Regions from separate parts of the Homo sapiens genome. Here all the other regions are linked to region 4. Evidence: fine-mapped expression QTL. A gene starts in region 4. Each other region holds a variant in brackets. All regions are shown on one strand. Distances are between the middles of the regions.

Region 1 (5,646 bases), 26 kb after region 4:
CCCACACCGGGTGGCTCCATGGGGTCTTGTTAAACCTTCTCAGAGGTTGGCAGAAGACTCCTTTTAGCCTTGTCCCTTTCTTCTTGCCTCTGGGTCTCTCTTCCTGGGGACTTTCTTCACCCTGCCTTCGTCTTTCTTCTGCCACTTTGCTGCTTTGCCCTGACCGCTCTGTCCTCCTTTTTCCAGTCCCTGTGCGTCTCTCCTCTTCCTGCTGGCTTTCCTCTCCCTGCCCCTCTTCCCCCTCTCTTTCTGTCTACGTTGAGGAGGTGTCATCCTCTGTTCTCTCTGCTCTTTCTTGGCTGTGCTGCTTCTTCCTCCCTCCTAAGATCACCTATCCCGCCGAGCCCCTGCCCTGCTGGGGCCTGAAGTGAAGAGGGCTCTTCCCTCAAATTCCCTAGAGCTGAGGGGCAGGGCCAGCATCTCAGGCTGGCGACCAGTGCAGCCACACAGGGCTCAGAAGGCCTGTGCTTTGTTTAACACTTGGCAGTTGCTGTCCTGAATTCTCAGTAATTTTTGAATAAGGGGCTGCATTTTCATTTTGCAGTGACTCCATGAAGTATGCACTGTTTCTGCTGAGGATTATGAACTTCCTGGGGGGAACACATCCCCTCCTCTTAGAGCTGTAAGAGCTGGGCTGAGGCGCAGGGTCCAAGTGCTGGTCCTGCGTCTGCTCCTCACTCACCCAACAGTAAGCAGCAAGATTCATCTTCATTTTACCAATGAGATAAATCAAGGCTCAGAGAGGCCATGTCACTTGCCCAGGGACCCACAGCTCATGAGCCCGGATTGAAGGAAGCTGACTCTGAAATTTGGACATTCTGTGGTCCTTTCCTGGCTGAAACCATAGGGGCTTTGGTAAGCCACCCTTTTATCAGTGAACTAAGGCTCAGTCTTTGCATCTGGAAAATAGAGGTAGTGAAAGTAGCCATCTGTGCAGAACCAGCTGGTGTTTAAATCCTGGAAAGTTCCTGGCACATGGCTACCTCCTGAAACAGCAGCCACAGCCTTTCTGAGCCTCCATTTTCTCATCTGTCAAATGGGGATCATGGTGGTACCTGCCTCACAGGACCCTTATGGGAATTTAATGACACAGGACGTGTGCTTAGCTTAGGGCCTGGCACAAGTAGGTGGGCAAGGCTAGTACACAGGAGCTTCTAGGCCAGAGGAGGGAGTAATCTATGAGTAGGGAAACTGTAGGATTTATTGTCCTGACTGGGGCACTTTGAGAATGAAAGGAACATGACAAGAAGCATAAACAGGGATTGTTGTGGGCAAGCCAGGATGGAGGGTCACTCTACCTGTGTATCAAGTATGTCTTTGTCATGATTGTCTGTTTCATAAAATATGTTCACAGATAGGTGAGTATAAGGATGCCCCAGGCCCACCCCCAGCTGGTGTGGAGAAAGACTGTGTTTGGGCTGGGTGCAGTGGCTCACACCTGTAATCCCAGCACTTTGGGAGGCCGAGGCAGGTGGATCACCTGAGACCAGCCTGACCAACATGGAGAAACCCCATCACTGCTAAAAATACAAAATCAGCCAGGTGTGGTGGCGCATGCCTGTAATCTCAGCTACTTGGGAGGCTGAAGCAGGAGAATCGATTGAACCTGGGAGGTGGATATTGCGGTGAGCTGAGATTGCGCCATTGCACTCCAGCCTGGGCAACAAGAGCAAAACTCCGTCTCAAAAAAAAAAAAAAAAAAAACAAGGCTGTGTTCGAGCCTGGGCCATAGAGAATGATGTCCCTCGGGCTGGGCATGATGGAACATGATGGTAAGCCCAGCACTTTGGGAAGCAAAGTGGGAGGATAGCTTGAGGCCAGAAATTCAAGACCAGCTTGGGCAATATAGCAAGACCTCATCTCCAAAAATTAAAATAATAAAATTTTAAAAAGGGAGGGGGAAAAAAGAAAGAGTAGTGTCCCACTTATCACTGCTACTGCTACCAAAGCTTCAGTTCTGAAAAAACATCAGGGAGAATGACTTAAAGGCCACGGTTCAGGCCCCTTCTCAGATATTCTAGAAAATTCTTTGGATTACACCAGCAGTGCATACACCTGGATGTGTAGACTGAAACTCACAGTCATATCTAGGAAAAGCAGCTTTTACTGAATTGCAGTTTGGGGCAGTGCTGTCCATCAGTGAGTGTTTGGAGCCTCCCTTAAAACATTCAGGAACTGGAGACCCCGTTCCGTGATCAGATCCCCCATGTCTTCTCTCCACAGGCTTCTGGAGACAGTCCTTCTGCTCCTAGCATCAGGAAGCCTTACTATTCCCCTGAGTGGGTTTGGTTTTTAGCAAGGAGCATGTGACTCATGTAACTGGGTCCCCCTTTCAGGAAGCTGGGGTTCCAGTGTATGGTCCAGCCACTGTCAGTGTCTAGGAACTTCTGTGTCCCCTGCATTTCACCCTTAGCCGTGACTCCATTTTCTGTCTCTACACATGTTTCCCTTCCTTCTTTTACTTTAATTTATGTTCCCTGTATAAGTGAGCCTCTTTTGAACCTCCCACCATCCACAGCTGCATCACGCCAATAATTAAGTGAACAAAAATAAAAAATCGACAAACCTGCAAGCAAAACCATATTGTGGCACCCCTCCCCAACCCAGGAGAGCAGCTCAGTTGGCCTGGTGGGGGTCGGCTGGCAAAGGGTTAAGAATGATGCAGAGGAAGTGCTGGCGGAGATTAAAGGGAGGAAGTGGCTGCTGCCTGGGGAGGGAGGTGGCTGGCTTGTCCTGTGTGACTCCAGGGGCCTAAACCAACACTGACA[C/T]GAATGTGGCAGTTTGCTCAAGGTCAGTGTAGTGAAAAAAAGGAAGAGCTTTCCAATGACTTGACAAGTCTTTCTAGAAGTTCTACTGGTGGGGGTTTCAAACTCACTGATAGCTGACTCCAGACATAGCTCTCTTTAAACATAACAGCCAAAGGGCATGTTTGTTTGAGCCAGTCTCTTCATGTTCATAGAGTGACCAGCGGGCCCTGATTGGCTGGGACATTCCAGTTTGAGCACTTTACATTCTGCATCCCAGGACACCCCTTGGTTTCTGGCAAACCAGGACAACTGGTCACCCTATGCACCCTACGTATATGATCTCATGAAATCTTTACATTGACCCCCTTTACAGACGAGGAGTCTGTGATTTAGTAATCCAAGATTACATAGCATGGGAAGGGCCAAGCTGGGATTCACATGTGGATTTGCTGTAACTGAGTGAGGCTTAAGCTGTCAGCTGCACTGAGCCACTTCCCTTTTCCTGTAAGATGAGGGTGTGAGACCCCTTGATCCTAAAGCCTCTCTAGCAATGACTTTTAGGATTCTAGAATTTCCTCTGGTCTTCGAGCAGCTTTTTGTTTTCCATGGAAGGTGGGGTGGGGTAGGGTGGGGGGCAATTTTTCCAGCAAGACCCCTCCTAGGTCAAGGCTTGGGCTTTGCCTTGGGAGAGGTGACAGCCTGGTGACAGGGTCAAAAGGAAGGGCAGCCTGCCCCTCCTTCCCTGTGCCTGGGAACAGGGTGGGATCTCATACTCCACCGTCCTGATTGCTGGCAGTGGTGCCAGTCCATTTGTCAGCTGCTTGGGCTGGAGCCAGGGAATTCCAAGGGGCCAGAGCCTGCCTGAGCACTCCAAGGCCTCTGTGCTCGTGGCTGGCAGCCTAGGCAGGAGGACCCTGGGGCAGCTCAGGGCTCTGGGATTTTTCAAAGCTCCATGTGGCTGGACAGGCCTCTACAGACTCCCTGCCCTGGGAGTCTGGCCAGCCTGTGGAGACTGTGCAGAGGGGGGTGATTTGGAGTCTCTAAGTACCCCAAGTCAGTGAGGTAGCATTGTGAATGTGCAAGGTGCGGAAGTTGCACAGGTGGGGACAACTGATATGAGATCACAGGGCCCCGTGTGCAGCAGGCAAGCCACAGAACATAAAGGACAGTGACCGTCACTGAAGACCTGGACTCCAGAGTCAGGCAGTGCAGATTCAGATCTCTCCTCTGCCCCTTCCTACTGTGAGATCTTGGGCCAGTGCCCTTGCTTCTCTATGGCTTGATTTCCACATCTGAAAAATGGGAATGAAAATATCTACCTCGAAGGTTTGTTGTGAGTGGAGGCACTGAGTATGCCGTCTGTGCCTAATAAGCAGGGGGTGGATTCCATGAGCCCCAGACTCTCAGTTTTGGTTCCTCTCACCCCATAGCTGCACCCCAGGACCCTGTGACAGGCAGTGGGTGAGGGCTCTTCCCCATGGAGAAGCCGTGCTGGTAGGCTGTAAGGGAAGTCCTAGGGAGAGGAAGGAATGCTGCCTGGACACGTTTCACAGTCTTGTGATGAAAGGGGCCTGTCAGCCCATCCACGATGCTTGGAAATGCTGTGATAAGGGCATAGATGCTTTGAGTTCTCACAGATCTGAGTTCAAGTCCTGGTTCCACTGGGCACTGGCTGGCGATCCTGATCTGGTTCCTTTTACAGCCTCAGTTTCAACATCTGTGAAATGGAGGTAATGTCCTCAGGCCAGGGGGAAGATGGATTGTCAGGACACAAGGAGATGAGGGGGTGTCAAGCTCACAGCTAGGTGCCTGGCACGTAACAGGATGGGTCTCTTTCCTCTTGTCACCTTGCTGTTTGCTCTGCCTGGATTTGTGCACATGAGGCTGGGAGAAGCAAGGGGATGCTTGTGGAAAGCACACCCCAGGCAGAGGGACCTGCAAGAGCAGAGGCCCAGGTGCTTTGAACCATGCTCGGGGTACTGGGCTCCTTAAGCACAGGGAGCAGGTTGGTTTGGAAGGACTTGGCCTCTGAGGTCCCCCCAGCAGTCCTTCCGTGCCCCCAGCCTGGGGCTTCCCATGAGTCCTGCAGCCCTGTCCTGGGTCAGGGGTCGCTGACTTCACTTGGGTTGTCCAAGGGGAAGGGAGGCTAATGCCCATGCTCAGTGGCCCACCCTTCCTCCTGTTGCCTCTTGCCTCCACCAGCTCTCCCCCTCTATGCTGCCTTTTCCCCTTAGCGTCCTTTCCCTGGCACTTTTTTTCTTTTTAGGAGGCAAAGTCTTGCTCTGTCACCCAGGCTGGAGCGCAGTGGTGCAATCATAGCTCACTGCAGCCTCGACTTCCTGGGCTCAAGCGAGCCTCCCACCTTAGCCTCCTGAGTAGCTGGGACTAAAAGGTGTGTGTCACCACACTTGGCTAAATTTTTAAATTAAAATTTTTTCCCCTAGAGGCAGGGTCTCTCTATGATGCCCAAGCTGGTGTTGTACTCCTGGCTATAAGTGACCCTCCCGCCTCAGCCTCCCAAAGTGCTGGGATTACAGGCATGAGCCACTGTGCCCAGTCTCCCTAGCACTTTTAAGTGTTAATATCTCACACGCACACATACACACATTCATGTCAACCACTAACTGGATCTGACATAGTAGGAATGGTTTTGGCATCTGAGCCCCAGTCCTGACGCCATTTTGCTGTATAACTGTGGCCAAAAACCTCCTTTGTGTGTGGGCCTCTGCTTCTCCATCGTCATCACGACATTGACTTCAGTTCACTGGGGAAAAGTTGAAAGCAGGACCCTGATGGTGGAATTGAAGGCATAGCAGCAGTGTGTATCTGGCATCAATTTGCAGTGGGGGATGCCTTTCCAGAACCCCAGCACCAGACCCCAGAGACTGCTGACTGCTCC
Region 2 (5,646 bases), 74 kb before region 4:
TTTTTGTATTTTTAGTAGAGACAGAGTTTTGCCATGTTGGCCAGGCTGGTCTTGAGCTCCTGATCTCAGGTGATCTGCCCACCTCAGCCTTCCAAAGTGCTGGAATTACAAGCATGAGCCACCATGCCCTGGCCTTATTTCGTATTTTGATGCCAACCAGAAGACATCTATTGTGAAAAAAGCACTAAAAAAATCATATGGACAGGATGACTTAGCCAGTAGGTGTCAGCTATTCTCTCTCTGTGGCCAACCCAGGGTTTGCACCACGGAGTAGCCGTGGTGGCAGAGATGGAGATGATGCATGGGACAAACACCATGATCTGTCTTACCAAGGCTGATCCAGGTACTGCTGTTGCTCAATCACTAATCTTCTCACAACAGAGAGAATGCTGTCTCCCACATGATATAATCCCTGGAGGAAACCATCCGCACCTGATGTGGACATGATAGAGTGAAAAATTGACTGTATTAGATTTTTACACTGTGGACATCTTGATTGGGATTGACGTGTATTCCAGGTGTGTGTTTGCCTTTCCTGCTCTCAGGGCCTCAGCCAACACTGCTGTTTAAGGATTCATATGTATGTGCCATCATGTGATACTGTAGAATCCTACTTTGTGCCAAGTGATGCAGCAGTGGGCACATGACCATAAGATCCACTGGTCTTACCGTATTCTGCATTATCCAGAGGCGGGTACATCTGTTAGAGCAGTGGAATGGCCCACTGAACGCATAGCTGATCTGTTAGCTTAGAGATGACACCCTGCAAGTTTGGCACACTAGCCTTATGGATGCAGAATATTCTGTAAATCAATGGCCATTATATCTTGCTGTGTCATTAAGAGGTAGAATATTGGGTTCGAGAGCCAAGAAATGAAAATTGGCATTGATTCGCTCTCCATACCTCCTAGTGATGAGCTTGGAGGATTTGTGTGGTGTCATCAGGCTCTGTGAACCTCAAGATTATAATTTCCAGCGGGGGCAATTTCCACCAGAGGACACAATAAAAGCAAACATAAATCTATGCCTGCCATCTGGGCACTTTGAGAAGACCATAAGGCAAAGAAAATAGTCACCATCCTGGCACAGGGCATTGGCCCTTCTTATCATGATGAGACTGGGCTGCAGCTACACCATGAGAACAGAGAGAGATATTATTGGTTCTCAGGTGCTTCACCGGGGCATTACTTTGTACCCCCATGACTAACTGTCACTGAAAATGGGCAGTTAGCAACCACTGCCTGATAAGAGCATTGTAACCAGGGGCTCAGACCCTCCAGGATGAGGGTGTGTATCACTCCATCTGACCAGCCTTTTAGTCCAGCAGAAGTGCTAACTGATGGAGAGGGTGATCTAGAATGAGTCGTGGAGGAGGGAGATGGTGAGTATTAGTGATAGCCTCGAGACCACCTGCAGCCGTGGAAGCTCTAGTTTATCCCACTAATCTTCTTGTCAAAATTTCTTCCAAATGGTGACCAGTCAGAGTCCTAGAGAGAAGCTACAGCTGCATGGAATGAACTTAATGTGAGAAGCGATGGATCGGAGCAGTTTAAGGCGTAGACTGTAATAGACGCTGTTGGTGTCCCTCCCAGATCCCTTTAATGGGCTGGTGGACCCGTGTTCCAGGTGCTGTGAGTGCTGACTGCATGCCTCATGGATACCTCGCCTCATTCTCTGGTGAGTCAGCTTTAGCCCTCTATTACCTGGCAGCAGCACAGAGCCAGTAACTGACACAGAGGAACAAAATCCAGATTCCTGGCCTCTAGGTGTTGTCATCTCTATGATGTAATTTATGCTCCACAGATCCTTCTGGGTCCAGGCTAAGGCTATTCTCTAGCTGGCCATACCCTTGCTTAGAGTTTACCCTCTTCCCTGCTTTGCCCCCATTATCTCTTTCCTCCTGTGAGTACTCACTCAAAACATCACTTGCAGGAGCATTGCACCAAAAACACAAAAATCTGGGGATTACCAAAAATTTGAAATGTCATGATCAGCTAATTCTTTAATACTATCAAGTAATTTCTTAGCTCACTAATTTCTTAAAATCATCAAATATCTACTGTTAAAATTTCTCCCAATGATTTAATTTTTATTTAAAAAATTTTAAAATGTATTTATTTTATTTACAACTCTTAAGTTCAGGGGTACATGTGCAGGATGTGCAGGTCTGTTACATAGGTAAACATGTGCCATGGCGGTTTGCTGCACAGATCATCCCAAAACTATGGTTTGCTTGTTTGGATCCATATTAGTTTTCCATTGCTGCTGTAACAAATCACTATAAACTTGGTGGCTTAAGCAATACAAATTTATGATCTTATAGTTCTGGAAGTTGAACACGGATATCTCTGAGCAGAAGTCAAGGCATCATTAGAGCCATGTGCCTTTCTGGAGGCTCTGTAGGAGAACCTGCCTGTTTGTGTTTTCCACCTTCTTAGAGGTTGTTCACATCCTGTGGCTTGTGGCTCCCTTCCTCCACCATCTAAACCAGTTACATCGCTCCTCTCTGATCCTTCTTTTATAGTCACATTGCTTTCTGATTACAGCCAGAAAGGATTCTCCACTTTTACAGACTCATTAAATTAGACTGACCCTTCCTGAAAAACTTGGAGTAATCTTCCCATCTCAAGATCCCTAACCTTAACCTC[G/A]TGTGCGAAGTCTCTTTTGCCATAACCTGTATTCACAGGTTCTAGGGATGAGGAGATGAACATCTTTGCAGGCCATTATTCTGCCCACCACAGGATCCAAATAAAGTTCATATGTTTCACTTGGTTAATATGCCTAAGTCTTTTTAAATCTGTAGATCCCCTTCCTTTCTAACTCTCTCTCTCTCTTGCTTTTTTCAGAGACAGGGTCTCACACTCTGTCACCCAGGCTGGAGTGCAGTGGTGTGATCATAGCTCACTGCAGCCTTGAACTCCTGGGCCCAAGCAATCCTTCCACCTCAGCCTCCTGAGTTGCTGGGAATACAGGCTCACACCACCCTGTCTGGTGTTTTTATTTGTTGTAGAGATGGGGGTCTCACTATGTTGCCCAGGCTGGTCTTGAACTCCCGGCCTCAAGCTATCCTTCCACCTCAGCCTCCCAGAGCACTGGGTTTACAGGAATGAATCACTGTACCTGTCCCCTTCCTTTATAACCCTTTTGGTCTTTGCAATTTATTGTGGAAGAACTGTTATTTTCTCTAGAAGATTCCTCCAGTCTATATTTTGCTATAGTCTCATGGTTTCTTTAAGGTGTTCTTTTCTTGGTTTTCCTTGAAAATTGGTAGTTGGATCTAGAGGGTTTATCAGACTTATGTTCATTTCTTTTTGTAAGACATAGCAGGTAGTGTGCTTTTTGTGATATTAGCAGCTATTGATGCTCAATGCCTAAATCTATTAATTTTGTAGGGTTTGTAAAAGGGTGATACTCTTTCTATAATTCCATATTTATTTATTACCTATAATACATCTATAATGTATTATCAAATATTTGGGTAGCCTGAGGTACAGTTCTTTGAGGAAAGGCAGAATAAATGCATGCTCCTTTCCCTTTATTTACTAATTTTCACAATAGTTTGTTCACTAGTATCCTCCACCCATGATCGGTGAATTTCCTTTCGATTATCATAATGAAGTCAAGGATTTAAGCATCTCGATTCCAAACCCAGATCTTCTATATTCTAGTTATAGAACAACGGTGCCCAAATTTTTGCTCACCAAGAATCCTGTTGTTTTATCCCCAGGACTCCTTAATTGAAAATATCTTGCTCACTAAATCCACTGCATAAAATAGGAATTAATTAGTTGCCCAAATTTTAATAAGTTAAAGATAATCATGAGTCAAATAAGGTTCTGATTGCAATAGTCCTAATGTAATTCTTCTAGAGTCTACTAGAATGCCAGAATACCAGCCAAAATAAAAGATTCTTTAGTCAATCTGGTCTTACCCCCTGTAGTTAGCCTTTCTATATTGAGAATAGCTTGAATACCCTTGCCCCCATAATGGACTCCAAGAATCCGTTGTTTTGAAACCATTGACTTAACAACCAACAAGCTAGTAGTTATTGAGTCCTTCCTATGGGGTAAGCAATGTTCTAAGTACTTCAATGTATGGCATATTTAATTCTCAGAACCACCTTAAGAGGTAGCCACTATTATTATCTTCATTTTGTGGATGAGAAAATTGAGTGACAAGAAAAGTTTAGTGGCTTGCCCAAGGTCACACAGCTGGTGAATGATGGAGCTGGGAGTGGCAACCCTGGGCCCATACTCCCACATGGCGATGATTAGCTGATGCTGAGTGGTGGCTTCCTTCCTTAGGCCAAGCATATACCCCTCGGGTCACGATAGCATCCACCTGTCCGTCTTCATTCATTGACATTACTGGCCTAGCCTCTGCAGGCATTTGGGTTTGAGATCTCTGGCATGCCTCACCAACGCTTTACACATCTTGTGATTCTAGGAAGCTTTAATTGGGTTTGTAATAAGAATGGATGCCTCATCTTAACCTGTCCAGGGAATAGAGTTTTATTTGTCCTGGATCTCACGCTGGGCTGGATTTATAAATGCAGAATCCCAGCACCAAATTTAGCAGAGTGAATTATTTGGTTTCCCAAATGTAGGCCACAGTATCTAATTGGAGCTGTAATGCAGTAACTGTGTGGGCAATTACCCAGCGAGGTGATGGGTGATGGACATGTTCAAGATGGAATCTGGGAGCACTGTATCAAATAATTTCCTTTTCTCTTTCTTTTTCCACAAGAAACAATTTTCTTCCCTGTTGTCCATCTTGGTGGTTTCAGGTCTCCTTTTGGACCTTGGAGACAACATTGAAGGTATGGCTCAAAGACCAGCCAGCCAGCAAGACATTATGGAACTCAAGTCCCGTACCACAGTTGCTTGCTACGTGAGGCTGGGTTACCTCTTGAGGCTACGTGAGGCTGGGTTACCTCTTGGAGCTCTCTGGGTCTGTTATTTTAGTAACATGAAGACCTAGAAACATTTTCCTTGTCAAAGACCTTTGGTTCTATGAGGTAAGTGGGATGGTGTGGGGGTGGTGCTCTGGGAATAGGCAGATTTTGTTTCCATGCAAGATATGGTAACTGCCTTTATTTGAGTACTTACTGTATACCATATATATGCAAAGCATTTTGCAGACATTATCTCATTCAGAACACACAGTGCAACAACATATACAAACTGAGCCTCAGAGCAGCAAAGTGATTTGTCCTTTACTCCACAGCCAGCAAGTGGCAGAGCTGCAAAACCCATTGAAGAAGATTCACTGGGAGGTGAAGACTTCCCACTGGGAGGCTGGACAATGACTTGGCAGGGAGTTGGTCAGTTAAGTCCACTCTCATTCTAATGATCTGTGAACTCAAAGTCCTGTGATATTGGAAGCAAGGGTTTTTTGTGTACTTCTCCACTTTATTTCCAGCCTTCTGCTTATGAAACATGGGACACAGTATTATCAAGCTCTTGGCTATTTTGAACAAAAGTGAATTGGTAAGAATATCTCATGGGACCAAATGTAGCTGAATGACAGTCCCTAGGAATGAAAGGACTTTGGCACCCTGGGGAACCAGGTGGCTGTGGAAACCAGTGGTTTCGGGGCTTGGTGACAATGATTGGTCAGCTCCACCTATTTCTAGTCTGTCTTTGC
Region 3 (5,646 bases), 34 kb after region 4:
ACCAAGGGAGGAGAAGCTGGAAGCCCAGCCTGGAGCTCCTGATTCTACCCACGTGCTCACTCGGTCACTTCACTGAATCTGAATCTCAGTTTTCTCATCTGTGAAATGAGAATAATGGGCAACTGGCATTGTTTGTGACCTGATGAAGGGCTGGCTGTTTTTCTAGGTGTGCCACAGAGGTTATTCTCCTTCACCATCATGGTATGTTGGGTGGTCCACATGCCCCAGAAGTGGAAAAAGAGACTTGGAGGTGTGGAGAGCAGATCCAGGTCACCCAGCCAGGACCACCTCCTTGTTAGGTGTTAATGCCCTGTCCCGACTGAGGCCAGACAATAGCTTGGTTTCAGCTGAGGGACTTGAATAAAGTGAAACACGCTTTGCAGAGCCTCTTGCAGAGGATGTAGGGATGCTGGGGAGGTGGGAGGCTGAGCTGAAGCTGGGAATGGCAGAAGCCATGGCTTCCTTATCCAGCTCACCAGAGCAACAGAAAGGAAGGAGCGAGGCATGGGACTCAAACACAAGGGCTCCAGAGCGGATGAGTCTGGGTTCTCCACCTCCTTGCCCTTCTCCCCACCCGCTGGCAGATTGGGACCCTGTGGCTGGGTAAGTTTCTTGAGTTGCCACTTTTCAGGTATCTCAGGGTGCCAGAGAAGAGAAGCAAGGGCAGAGGGTGAGCTGTGCTGACCTGGTTGTAAGAGAAGAGTGACTTCTCAGGGGGCGCTTCTGGAGGCATGTGGGGCCTCCGCTGCCTCCCAGAGTCGAGATTCCAAGCCCACACCCAGAACAGCACACCAAGTGCGTGCCACAGGCTGGCTCCCAGCATGGGCAGAAGTCACTCACCCCAGCTGCCTTCTTGACCACATCCTGAGCAAGCTGTAAGCATCCCCAGCACCAGCCACCCTTTGGCTACAATGTGTTCATAGCTTGGGGATTATTTGCAAGAGTGGACCCAAGGCTGACGTCAGGGGATTAACTAAATATGGTGCTGGACCTCCCAGTCCAGTGGGATATGCGCAGGGGAGAAAATTTGTTTACAGGCCAGCTCCAGGGGCTGGGGCGGTGTTTATGGGGAGAGGCACAAGCTGGATGGCTGGGAAGATACTTAGGGCTTGTGTACGGGACCCATTATTGGGGGCTACAGGGGCTTCCTGGCCTGGAAGGACAGATGTCCATCAAATGCTCTTGCTGGGGACCTTCTGTGACTAGGAATGGCTGCTGGGGAGATGGTTACAAGGGCAGCTAGGTGTCCAATAAAGTAATGAGGCTGAGTTTGCAAGGGCGTGTTCTCATGGAACTTGGTTCCGTCTGGGTCTGGGCTCGAGCCTCAGCTCAGTCCTCAGGTAGGCAGGGTCTAGATTGCTCAGGCCATAGTAAGGCATTGGTCTTGATTCTAAGAACAAGGAGGTGCTAAGAGGTTTTCAGCAAGGAGTGACATGATGTGGTTTGCTTCTTGAAAAGATTTGTCTACTAGGAATAAAATGGTCTGTGTACTAGGTAGATAGGTTTCTAACCAGTTAGGAGCCCCTGGTAGCCACATAGGTAAGCAGAGGTGATGCTCACAGCTGTGAGTTGTTGGGAGGACAAAATGGGAAGAACTTGTTGATAGATGTGTGGGTAGGGAGGGAGGGGAAAGTGTGGAGAGTCTGGTTTCTGAGTCAGAGTGTTGGCAGGAGATGGACAACCCACTCAAATGAGGTGATTAACGAGAACTTAGTCAGGGGAGGACTGACAAAAGGGTAGACAGTACAAGGGATCCCTACCACGCTCCGGGTCCAGTGAAGGCGAGAACTCACTGTTCCTAGACTGAGGGGCTAGAGCAGGAAGTAGTTAAGGCACCCAAGGAGTGTGGCTGTGGCCAACCCGCACACCTCTGACAAGGAGGGAGCTGGAGGGTTTGTACCCAACCGCACGCTCCACGCCTGCAGTTGTGGATCAAACCAGAGGTCAGAGGGCAAACAGCCTATTGAGATTTTCAAGCAGGTCAGCCTGTAGGGCACAGAACAGACAGGGATCTGGAGACAGAGATCCCCGGAGAGGAAGGAAACGCTTTTAAGGCTCAAGGAGTAGTGTTCTAATGGGAGGATGCCAGGCAGTGGCGTGAATATTTTGGGTGGGGGGGTCTCCCTGAGTCGGTGAGCTCATCAGCTGCTTTTCCTGGCCTCTAAGCAGGTGGGCTGTCTGGGTTCAGGGGCATAAGCTCCTTGTTTTTGCCCATTCTTATGGAGTCCTAAGCTCCGTCGTGGCCCCTTCCAAACCCGAAAGAAAATGGGACAGTCTGTTAGGCAGCCCGTGCCGCTCTGCTCTGCTGCAGTGACTCAGTGCGAGCTCCCACATGTGGGCGTGGGACCAGGGAGGAAATTCTCTCCTGACACGGAGCTAATTCTGTCCTGGGGCTGGCAGCCAGGCCTGTGGCTGGAACATCTGCAGACACTGTGTGGTTTCCAGGTTCCCGAGTCTGTCAGAGCCTGGGGATACAGGGATCTGGAGGTGTCTCTGGAGCCATCCTTGGGAGATGAGAGGCCCCTTCTCTCTGCCCTGGAGGGTAGGAGATCTGGTGAATGGACTGGCCCAGAAGGCAGCAGGCAAAGACATCAGCACCTACAGTCGTCCAGGCCAGGGGGAGGCTGGTATGCTGCTCAGGAGAGACATTTTTGAGGGCAAGAGTGGTGACTGGCCCGCCTCATTACATTTCAGCTGCTGGTTGAGGCTGTGATCTTGTGCTTTGGGGTCAAAAAGTCCTTGGTTCAAATCCCGAGCTGATGCTTAAAGGCTGTGTGAATCTGGACTAGTCA[C/T]TTCACCTCTCTGAGTCCCTATTTGCAAATCTATGGAACGGTCTATGTGGATCACACTGAGGCAGAAGTTATGGAAGTCCCAGGCACAGTTCTAGGCTCTGGGGATACACCATAAACAAGAGAGACCAAGTCCCTCTTTTCTATGATTTAGAGAGGGTCATGCACTCTCTGGGCCTTAGTTTCCCCTGCTACAAGAGATGGTCCTCCGAGGGGCCTCCCAGCTCCTTTTGGAGGCTGACAGAATTGGAGGAGAGGTGTCTGAGCCATCTGGCTGGACTGTCAGGGTGGGTCATGTGGGGAGAAGATGGGGACAGGAGCCAGGCCAAACATGGTCATTTGCAGAGCGAGGAATGTTTCCAGTTTCCCTGATGGGCTCTTACGCCCACAGGCCCTGATAAAGCCCCTGCATTTGGCCTGTGGCCTGCTTTCAGGAAGAGGTTAGTGGTAGCCTGCGATGAAAGAGACAGCAGATTGACAGAGTGGCTGCTGGAAGCTTGGGCTGGCTAGGCGCACAGGTGAGGAATGTTGCAGGTGAGGGGCAGCCGAGCCTGTCAGAGGGGGAGGGCTGACCCGTGACCGGTGTGCAGGAGGTGGAGAAAACATGGGAAGAGAGAGGAGGAGGTGGAGACTGAGAAGACAGGGAGACTGCAGAGAGATGGAAGAGACGGAGAGGGCCAGGAACAAAGAGAGGCAAACACAGAGACTGGGGGAGAGAGAGAGGCAGAAAGAACAAGTCAGATATGAGACAGAGGAGAGTAAGAACAGGACAGAGGTGGAAGCAGGGAAAGAGACAAAGGACAGAGAGACCAGGGCAGAAAAGGAGCCAGTGCTTTGCGATGTAAAGAACCCATTGGGCAAAGGGGTTTAATCAAGGAAGCAGAAGGTAAATATCTGCTGCCCAGATGGTCCCCGGCCCTGCTGTACACTGAGCCCATAGGACACACACCGGCAGGGGAACAGCCAGAGGAGGTGAGGCCCTGGATCCATATGAACTTGGGTTTTGAATCCCAGTCCTGGTAATGGCAAGGAGAACTCACTGTCTCTAGGCTGAGGGGCAAGAGGGAGCAGTGGTTCTTGGTGCCTGGAGAGTATAGCTGTGGCCAAGTCGACCCATGGAGACCCTACAGGGAAGGAGCTGGAGGGTAAACACCCAACCTTGCTGTCCTCCAGCCCTGCAATCCCTGCTTAACACTGTCATCGATCAACCAACCAGGCAGGTGTGAGGCAAGCTACTTGCTCCCCTGCCTCAGCTTCAGACATCCCCGTTGGTAAAGTGGGACTGATACCAGTGACCTTGCAGGGTTAGGGGGAGGCTGCAGAGAGAAAAGGTGTGCTCTCACCCACGGTGTGCTGCATCCCAGCAGCCACACCAGCTCTGGGGCGCAGAAGGCTCCACATGTCCTTGGAGGATGGATGAATAAATGAATGATCCCCGCCTCCAAAGGCTTCTCCTGTAACCGAGATTGGAGGCATTTCACATTCAGGCTATTAACCAGAGGCAGAGGGACCTGGGGGAGAAAATTGCAGGGGACCCGGAGCCCTGCCTTGCTCCGTCTGTAAAATGCACACCCTGAATCTTGCCAGATTGATTTTCTGGGGGCCCTTGGGAGGTTCCACTGGGGCAAAAGCCAGAGTTTTGTGGAATGTTCCAAGGAGGCGAAGCAGTGGACAGAGAGTGAGCTTGTCAATTCAGCAGGGTTTGGGCTTGAAGCCTGTCTCTGAGCATTCCTTCAGAATGGCTAATTGGACCTACCTTACTTACCTGAGCTCTCTGTGTGACCTTGGGCACGTTAGTTACCTTCTCTGTGCCTGTTTTCTCATTAGTAGCAGTGCTTACAACAGTGGCTGGACTGTAGTGAGGACTGTACGTGTATTTGTTTAATAAAACTTAAGCCAATAATGTCCATTGGAGGCTTTTGTTCTGCATGGCAGGAGAAGCCAGATGTGACCTTGAGGCCCTGTCCCTTTCCCAGCAAGGGTCCGGCAGCGGGGGTGTGGGCAGGACACAACTGTCTGCCTGGTGACCATCCCACCCCCAGCAGGGGCTGGGCTCGACGAGGAAGGACTAGGGCCCAGGACTCTTTGCACAGCCTCTCCTGGCTGGGCTGACGTTGTTACTTCCTTTGGCCGGTCCAAGTTCATTCCCGCCTAACGGGGAAAACGGGTGGAGCTCTGAGGGCTGCATGTTTGGCCCCCTGCCTGGCCACTGTGGCTCGGTCAGGGATTCAGTAACCAAGACTCTGAGCTGGGCACCACCCAAGCATGAGCCCCAGGCAGGGATCGGAGTGTTTGTTTGTTTGTTTTGGGGTTTCCTGGACCTCAGGAGAGGAGGGAGGGTTGACATAATTATACCCCTCCATCCCTCCACTTCTCCATCAGGGGCCCCCAGAAGTCCCTGCGCTTGTATTTTCTTTCTTCACTGTGCTCATTTCCCAGTAGCCCTATTTCCCAGTCCCGTGACCCCTCCCACCCTCTCTCCCATGGAGCCATTCTAATGTGTTCAATGTGCGTCTGGCTATTTGGCTGGATTCTTGCAAAACGTGTGTTGCCGCTTTGCAGACATGTTCTCAATGTACCACAGCACTATTAGGGTCCTGATAGCCAGCACCTGTGTGGCTCTTTGTTGAACTGACCTGAGGCTGGGAGTGGCTGGGAATGCACACTCCAGGACAGGGCGGAGGCATGCAAATACTCCTGGAATGTGACCTGCACTGTTCCCAGGGTCCTTGATGGGTGTGAGCCAAGGCCACCCTCTGTAGGACGCTGTGGGATGCTGCACCCCTGCCTGGCCTCCTCCCACTTCCTCACTCCCTCACCAGTTTTTCCTGAAATGCTTCCTTAATAAATCACTTTT
Region 4 (5,646 bases):
CTCTTCCCTCCTCCTCTCCTCTTCCCTCTTTTTCCTCTTTTCATCTCCCTCCTCCCTTTCCCTCCTCCTCCTTACCCCCTCCCCCTCTTCTCCTCCTCCCTCTCCCCTCTCCTCCCCTTGACCCCTCCTCTTCCCTCCTCCTCCTCTCTTCCTCCTTCCTCCTCCTCTTTTCATCTCCTTCCTCCCTTTCCCTCCTCCTCCTTACTCCCTCCTCCTCGTCTCCTCCTCCCCCACCCTCTCCTCCTCCCCTTTCTTTCTCTTCCCTCCTCCTCCGCTCCTCTTCCCTCCTCCTCTTTTCATATCCCTCCTCCCTTTCCCTCCTCCTCCTCCCCCTCCCCTCTCCTCTACTTGGCCCCTCCTTTTTCCTCCTCCTCCTCTCCTCTTTCCCTCCTCCTCCTCTCCTTTTTCCCTCCTCCTCTTTTCCTCTCCCTCCTCCCTTTCCCTCTTCCTCCTCTTCCTCTTCCACTGTCCACAGCAGATGAGGAAACTGAGACTCCAAAGGTGAAAGGCCTTGCCCAAGTCACACAGCTTACAGTGACAGCGACAGGAATTCAAACCAGGTCCGTCTGCTATCAAAGCCTCTGTTCTTAGCCACTATTCTGTGCATTGGCAAGGTGACTTGTTCCAGGGCCCATTTCAATGGATTCCTAATTGAAATGCCTATGTCAGTGGATCTCAAACTTGAGCAAGCATCAGAATCCCCTGGAGGGCTTCTTAAAACCCAGATGGCTTCCTGGAGTCTCTGATTGCCAAGGTCTGCAGTGAGGCCCAAGGGTTTGTGTTTCTAACAAACTTCTGGGTGAGGCTGCTGGGGTTGGTATGGAAACTAGACTTTAGGAACCTCTGGTCTCTATTAGATGGTGATATACAAGATCCCTGCCACGTTATGGAAATATCCTCTCCTTTCACCAGGAGAACCTGGGGAATGACATGATTTGGCTTTGTGTCCCGACCCAAATCTCATCTTGAATTGGAATTCCATAATCCTCACGAGTCATGGGAGGGACCAGGTGGGAGGTAATTGAACATGGGGGTGGTTTTCCCCCCATCCTGTTCTCATGATAGTGAGTGAGTTCTCATGAAATCTGATGGTTTTATAAGAGGCTTCCCCCTTTGCCTGGCACTCATTGTCTCTCCTGCCACCCTGTGAAGAGGTACCTTCCATCATGATTGTAAGTTTCCTGAGGCCTCCCCTGCTATGCGAAAATGTGAGTCAATTAAACCTTTTTTCTTTATAAATTACCCAGTCTTGGGTATTTCTTCACAGCAGTGTGAGAACGGACCAATACAATTACTAACTTCTGGGTGACCTTGGGTGAGTCCCTTGCCTCCTCTGGGTTCAGTGTTCTCATCTGTACAGTAAGTGTTTCGATATGATGTTTTGTTCCCTAGATAAGCCCAAAGAAGAAGAGAGCAAGGAAGACAGTTGGGTAGACTGGGCCTGACTTCTGACTATAGAGACCTGTGTGACCTCAGGCAAGAGACTCAATCTCTCTGGGCTTCAAGTTATCTGTGAAATGGAAGAATGAAATTAGATGGTTTCTAAGTGTAAAGCTCACTGAATTAAAGGATTGAGGATGGTGGGGAGAGGTCGGTGGGGTTCTAAGGCTGATCAGACGATGAGGACATAGTCCTCCACCTGCCCAAGACTTTGAGGCCCAAAACACAGGTTTCTCTCCTTCTCTCCCTCCCTCCCCATCTCCCTCTCCCTTCACCTTCCCCTCCTCCCCATTACCTTCCTCCCTGCCCTCCCTTTTCTTCCTTTCTTTCTTCTCCTCCCTTCCCCTCTCTTCCCCTCCCCTGCCCTTCCCTTTTCTTTTTCTTTCTAAAAATATTATTTTAGGCAGTCGTAGGCAGTCTTGGCTTTGGAATCAGACAGACTCAGATCCAGCCATGGCTCGGTCAGCATGAGCTTGGCGCCCTGGGCAAAACGACTTCTGCTCTGTGGCCCTAGCATCCTCATGTGTAGAATGGGCAAGTGATGCCCCCCCGACGTGGGTGGTGGTTCACACGGCTTACTCCATGGAAGCACTTGGCACAGGGGCCCACATGGGCACTTCTGTTATTTCTTCAGTCTGGAGGCCAAGGGTGGGCCTCCGAGCCAGACAACATAGTTGGAATCCCAGCTCTGTCAGCTGCTGGCGGTGTGGTCTTGAGCAAGTGACTTAATCTCTCTGTACCCCAGTTTCCTTATTGGTAAGACTGGAGTAGTAATAATTCCTGTTATCTAGGGTTGCCGTGAAGAGTAAGTACGCATCGCCTAGCACGCTGCCTGGCTGTCGGTTGTTTTGATTATTCCACTAATGATGGTGACCACACAGCCGATGAACCAGGCACTTAGCGCCTGGTTAGGGCAGGGAACAGAATACAGTTCTTTCCCTACAGAGTTCCTGGTGCAAGGAGTTCTCGGTGCAAGGAGAGAGACATCTTAACAGGCAAGGACAGCACTGCATCAGTGAGGTGATGGGGTGACCCTGAGGGGCACAGCAGCCCCCGAGGGTTGGGGAAGGCTTCCCTGGGAGGTGACCTTCAACCTGAGACCTGAAGAGGCAGTAGGAGACCATCGGGCCACGAATTAGGGCAGGAATAGCATCCAGGTGGGAGGAACAGCGTTGCAAAGGCCCAGGGTGAGAGGCAGCCAATCTCTCGGTCAGTGTGGAGCTTGAGCCCCTCACCGGGAGCAGAGGCGCTTGCACTTCCCCCAGCAGCCGGGTGCTCAGATGTGCTCCCTGTTTGCGCTCAGTGGGCACGGCTCCCCGGCTGCAAGAGGCTGCCAGAGGGGCGGGTCGTCCCCAGCGGGCCCCCGCCGCCACCCACAAGCCCAGTCCCCGGCTGGTAGGGGCACCCTCCCCTCGCAGCCCCCTCTCCACGCAGCTAGCCGCCCCCGCCCTAGGTCAGCCCAGTTTCCTGCCCCTCCCTCCTGCTCTCCTCCCTCCAGCTGTTTCTCTGGCTGAGTTCTGTCCCAGTCCCATTCAGGGAAGCAGCCCCGGCGGCCAGCAGGGAGCTCAGGACAGAGCAGGCTCCCTGGGAAGCCTCCGGGTGATAGGGGTGTTCCAGCTGCGGCGCTCTGGGGGTTCAGAGGGGGATCTTGAATGAACAAATGAATGAACTGCTTTCTGGGCAAACAGCCACAGCCAGAGGAGCCTGTGATTGGCAGAAAGAAGCCAGGGTGTGCAAGTCTCCCCAACAGCCTCGAGTGGCCTGCAGTCACAGGGAACCCTCAGGAAGACCTTCCGGGCAGAGACCAGAGGGAAGGTATCATCACACACTTGCCTTGGGTGTCTTCTGAGGGGGGCCAGGGAAGGGGAATGAATACTAACAGAGAGAAAAGTTTGTTTCTTTTTATAATTTCATATTTGTTAAAAGGAAGAGTTTTGTTATTATTTTCAGATGTCAAAAGTAATGCATGTTCATTGTTTAAAGAAATAGCAAGGATACACAACTAAATATATGAATGTGGATTTCCACATCTAGTTTGGTAACCTGCTTAACCACAGATTGTGAACTTTTTTCCATATCACCTATATTCTTCCAATATACATTTTTCATGGCTGCATAGAAAGGCTATCTTAAGATTATTTGACTTTTCCATAATAGATTTGCTTCTTTTTTTTTATTAGAACAGTGCTGCAATGAATATTTAGTATGACATCTTTGTGTGTGTGTCTTATGAATACCTTTTAGAAATTGCTAGATTTAAGGTTTGCCTATTTTTAAGACTTCTGAGCTTTTGGTCACACTGCACCCTGGAAGGCCGTGGCAGCTTGACCTCTCTACGATGTTATACCAGGGCACAGTATTCTCACATACTAAACCCACCTTGTTGCTACCCATCCCTTAAACTTTCCCTGATGTGAAGTCGAGAATAATATCTAGATGCTTCAATAGGCATTTCATTTCTTTGTTAGTGTTGATTCTCTTTTATAAACTTATTTTTCACATTTCTAGTCTGACTCTCCTGTTCAAGTCTGTTCCCATTTTTTTCTCCTCTGGGGGCATGTTTATCTTTTTCCAATTGATATCTAAGGGTTCTTTGTATATAAAGGACACAAAACCTTTGCCGGCACTCTCTGTTGAAAATATTCCACTCCCTCCTCTGTCTTCAGAATAGCCCATTTTAAATGGGCAAGCCAGCTTTGGCAAAATTATAAGCATTACAACATCAGGGAACTACTACTTGATATAAGCCCAATCACTCAGACCTGTGCGGTTCAGAGATGCCAGATCACTGGTCTGAGGTCACACGCCTGAACGTCCAGGTTCTGAGTCTTTCTTTTTCTATTAGGGAAAGCCCTCAACTTCCCTTTTGCATCCCCTACCTCCTTCTCAAGACCAATCTTCTCTGTGGTTCTTGCTGTATCTCCTGCCCCTTCCAAACTGGTTTGAAGGTAAGATTCCTCTAAATGCCTTGGCTGCTGAGGTGAGTGTGACTGGGTCATTCAGGCCTCTGGTGCAGGAGGAGGCAGCTTGGCCTTTTCTTTAACCTAAACCAGTGGCACTCAAATGATGATGTGTCATACACTTGGGAGGTCCACAGGAGAGTTATCTCTTGATGCACAGGGGCCTTCTTTGGACTCCCCCAAAACTTCAGGGAACAGATAACCTTAACTTTGGGCAAGTCATGCCTTTCTCTGGCTTGACTTGTTCTGAGAAGTCCCCTACCCGCACTGGGTCAGGGCTTGTCTGCTAGGCTCTCCCAGGGCCTATCCCTCCCTTATCACGGCTCCTACCACACCGTGTTCTAATGACCAGTCATCTTGTCTGTCTCTCCTTCTAGCCGGGAGGCCCCTAGAGGCCAGATCTGGGATATTACTTTTTTTCTGCATCCTCAGTCCCCTGCACAAGAACTAGCATATATTAGGGTCATTGTTCATGGAATAAATAAAGTAACCAGGTGTCAGTTTCACCATCTGTAAAATGGGGTGGGGGAAGTTGGACTGAAGTCCCATCTCTTAGATGTTTACCTAATAACTCCTCTCAGTTTGCAAACCACTTTCTCGAGATGATTTTATCAAATCCTCACCATGGCCACATGATGAAGGTACTATTAACATGCCCATTTTACAGATTAGGAAACAGAAGCCTGGAGAGTTCTGATGCTAGACCTCCCCACAAAAGGGAGTAGAACATTGTGCAAGAAGGGGCACCTTGGTCTTAGGCAAGGTACTCCCACTCTCTGGCCACAATAATATCATCTGTAAATAAGGATGATATTATTTGATATTATTATCACTCTGGGGGTGGGCTTGAATTGGCCTGCCACCTGCCAACTGAGTGACATGGAATCAGTTATTCCTCATCTTTGTGCCTGAGTTTCCTCATCTATAAAATGGGAATATGATCAGTAACTGCCTCATAAGATTATTCTAAAGAGTAAATGAGATCATACAAGTAAAGCTGTAAGCAGAGGATTTGTTGTAAAATAAGGTCTCTATAAACATTAGCTATTGTTCTGATGATCATTTCTATTCCACTGTGCCTGTCTATACCTGTGACACTCATCTGAGCCAAATGGAAATTATTATTGATTTCTTTAGTGGATTATTAATGCTCTTATTCCCACTGATGTACAAGAAAACCAAAAGCTTATTTCATTCTCTTTGAGCTACACCACATGGGTGCAGACATTACCGCCAGTTGCGAGGC

The links.
Region 1: its variant is fine-mapped to the expression of CMKLR1 in whole blood (TOPMed, PIP above 0.99).
Region 2: its variant is fine-mapped to the expression of CMKLR1 in whole blood (TOPMed, PIP above 0.99).
Region 3: its variant is fine-mapped to the expression of CMKLR1 in tibial nerve (GTEx, PIP above 0.99).

The regions. Positions count from the first base shown.
Region 1 is chr12:108,310,993-108,316,638 of GRCh38, reverse strand. The region is part of intron 2 of CMKLR1 (chemerin chemokine-like receptor 1); the gene reads left to right. Among named protein-coding and RNA genes, the nearest start is that of CMKLR1, 25 kb to the left of the region's middle. RefSeq lists an enhancer at 1-97 and silencers at 1-107, 213-507. The variant C/T (reference allele first, on the strand shown) is at 2,769.
Region 2 is chr12:108,410,260-108,415,905 of GRCh38, reverse strand. No RefSeq gene overlaps it. Among named protein-coding and RNA genes, the nearest start is that of LINC01498, 61 kb to the left of the region's middle. The variant G/A (reference allele first, on the strand shown) is at 2,649.
Region 3 is chr12:108,302,441-108,308,086 of GRCh38, reverse strand. All of the region lies in intron 2 of CMKLR1 (chemerin chemokine-like receptor 1), which reads left to right. Among named protein-coding and RNA genes, the nearest start is that of CMKLR1, 34 kb to the left of the region's middle. RefSeq lists enhancers at 1,900-2,421, 3,992-4,513. The variant C/T (reference allele first, on the strand shown) is at 2,793.
Region 4 is chr12:108,336,636-108,342,281 of GRCh38, reverse strand. It overlaps CMKLR1 (chemerin chemokine-like receptor 1), which reads left to right and starts at 2,971. Exons shown (of 4, transcript NM_001142343.2): 1 at 2,971-3,255. RefSeq lists a silencer at 2,688-2,807 and an enhancer at 2,915-3,538.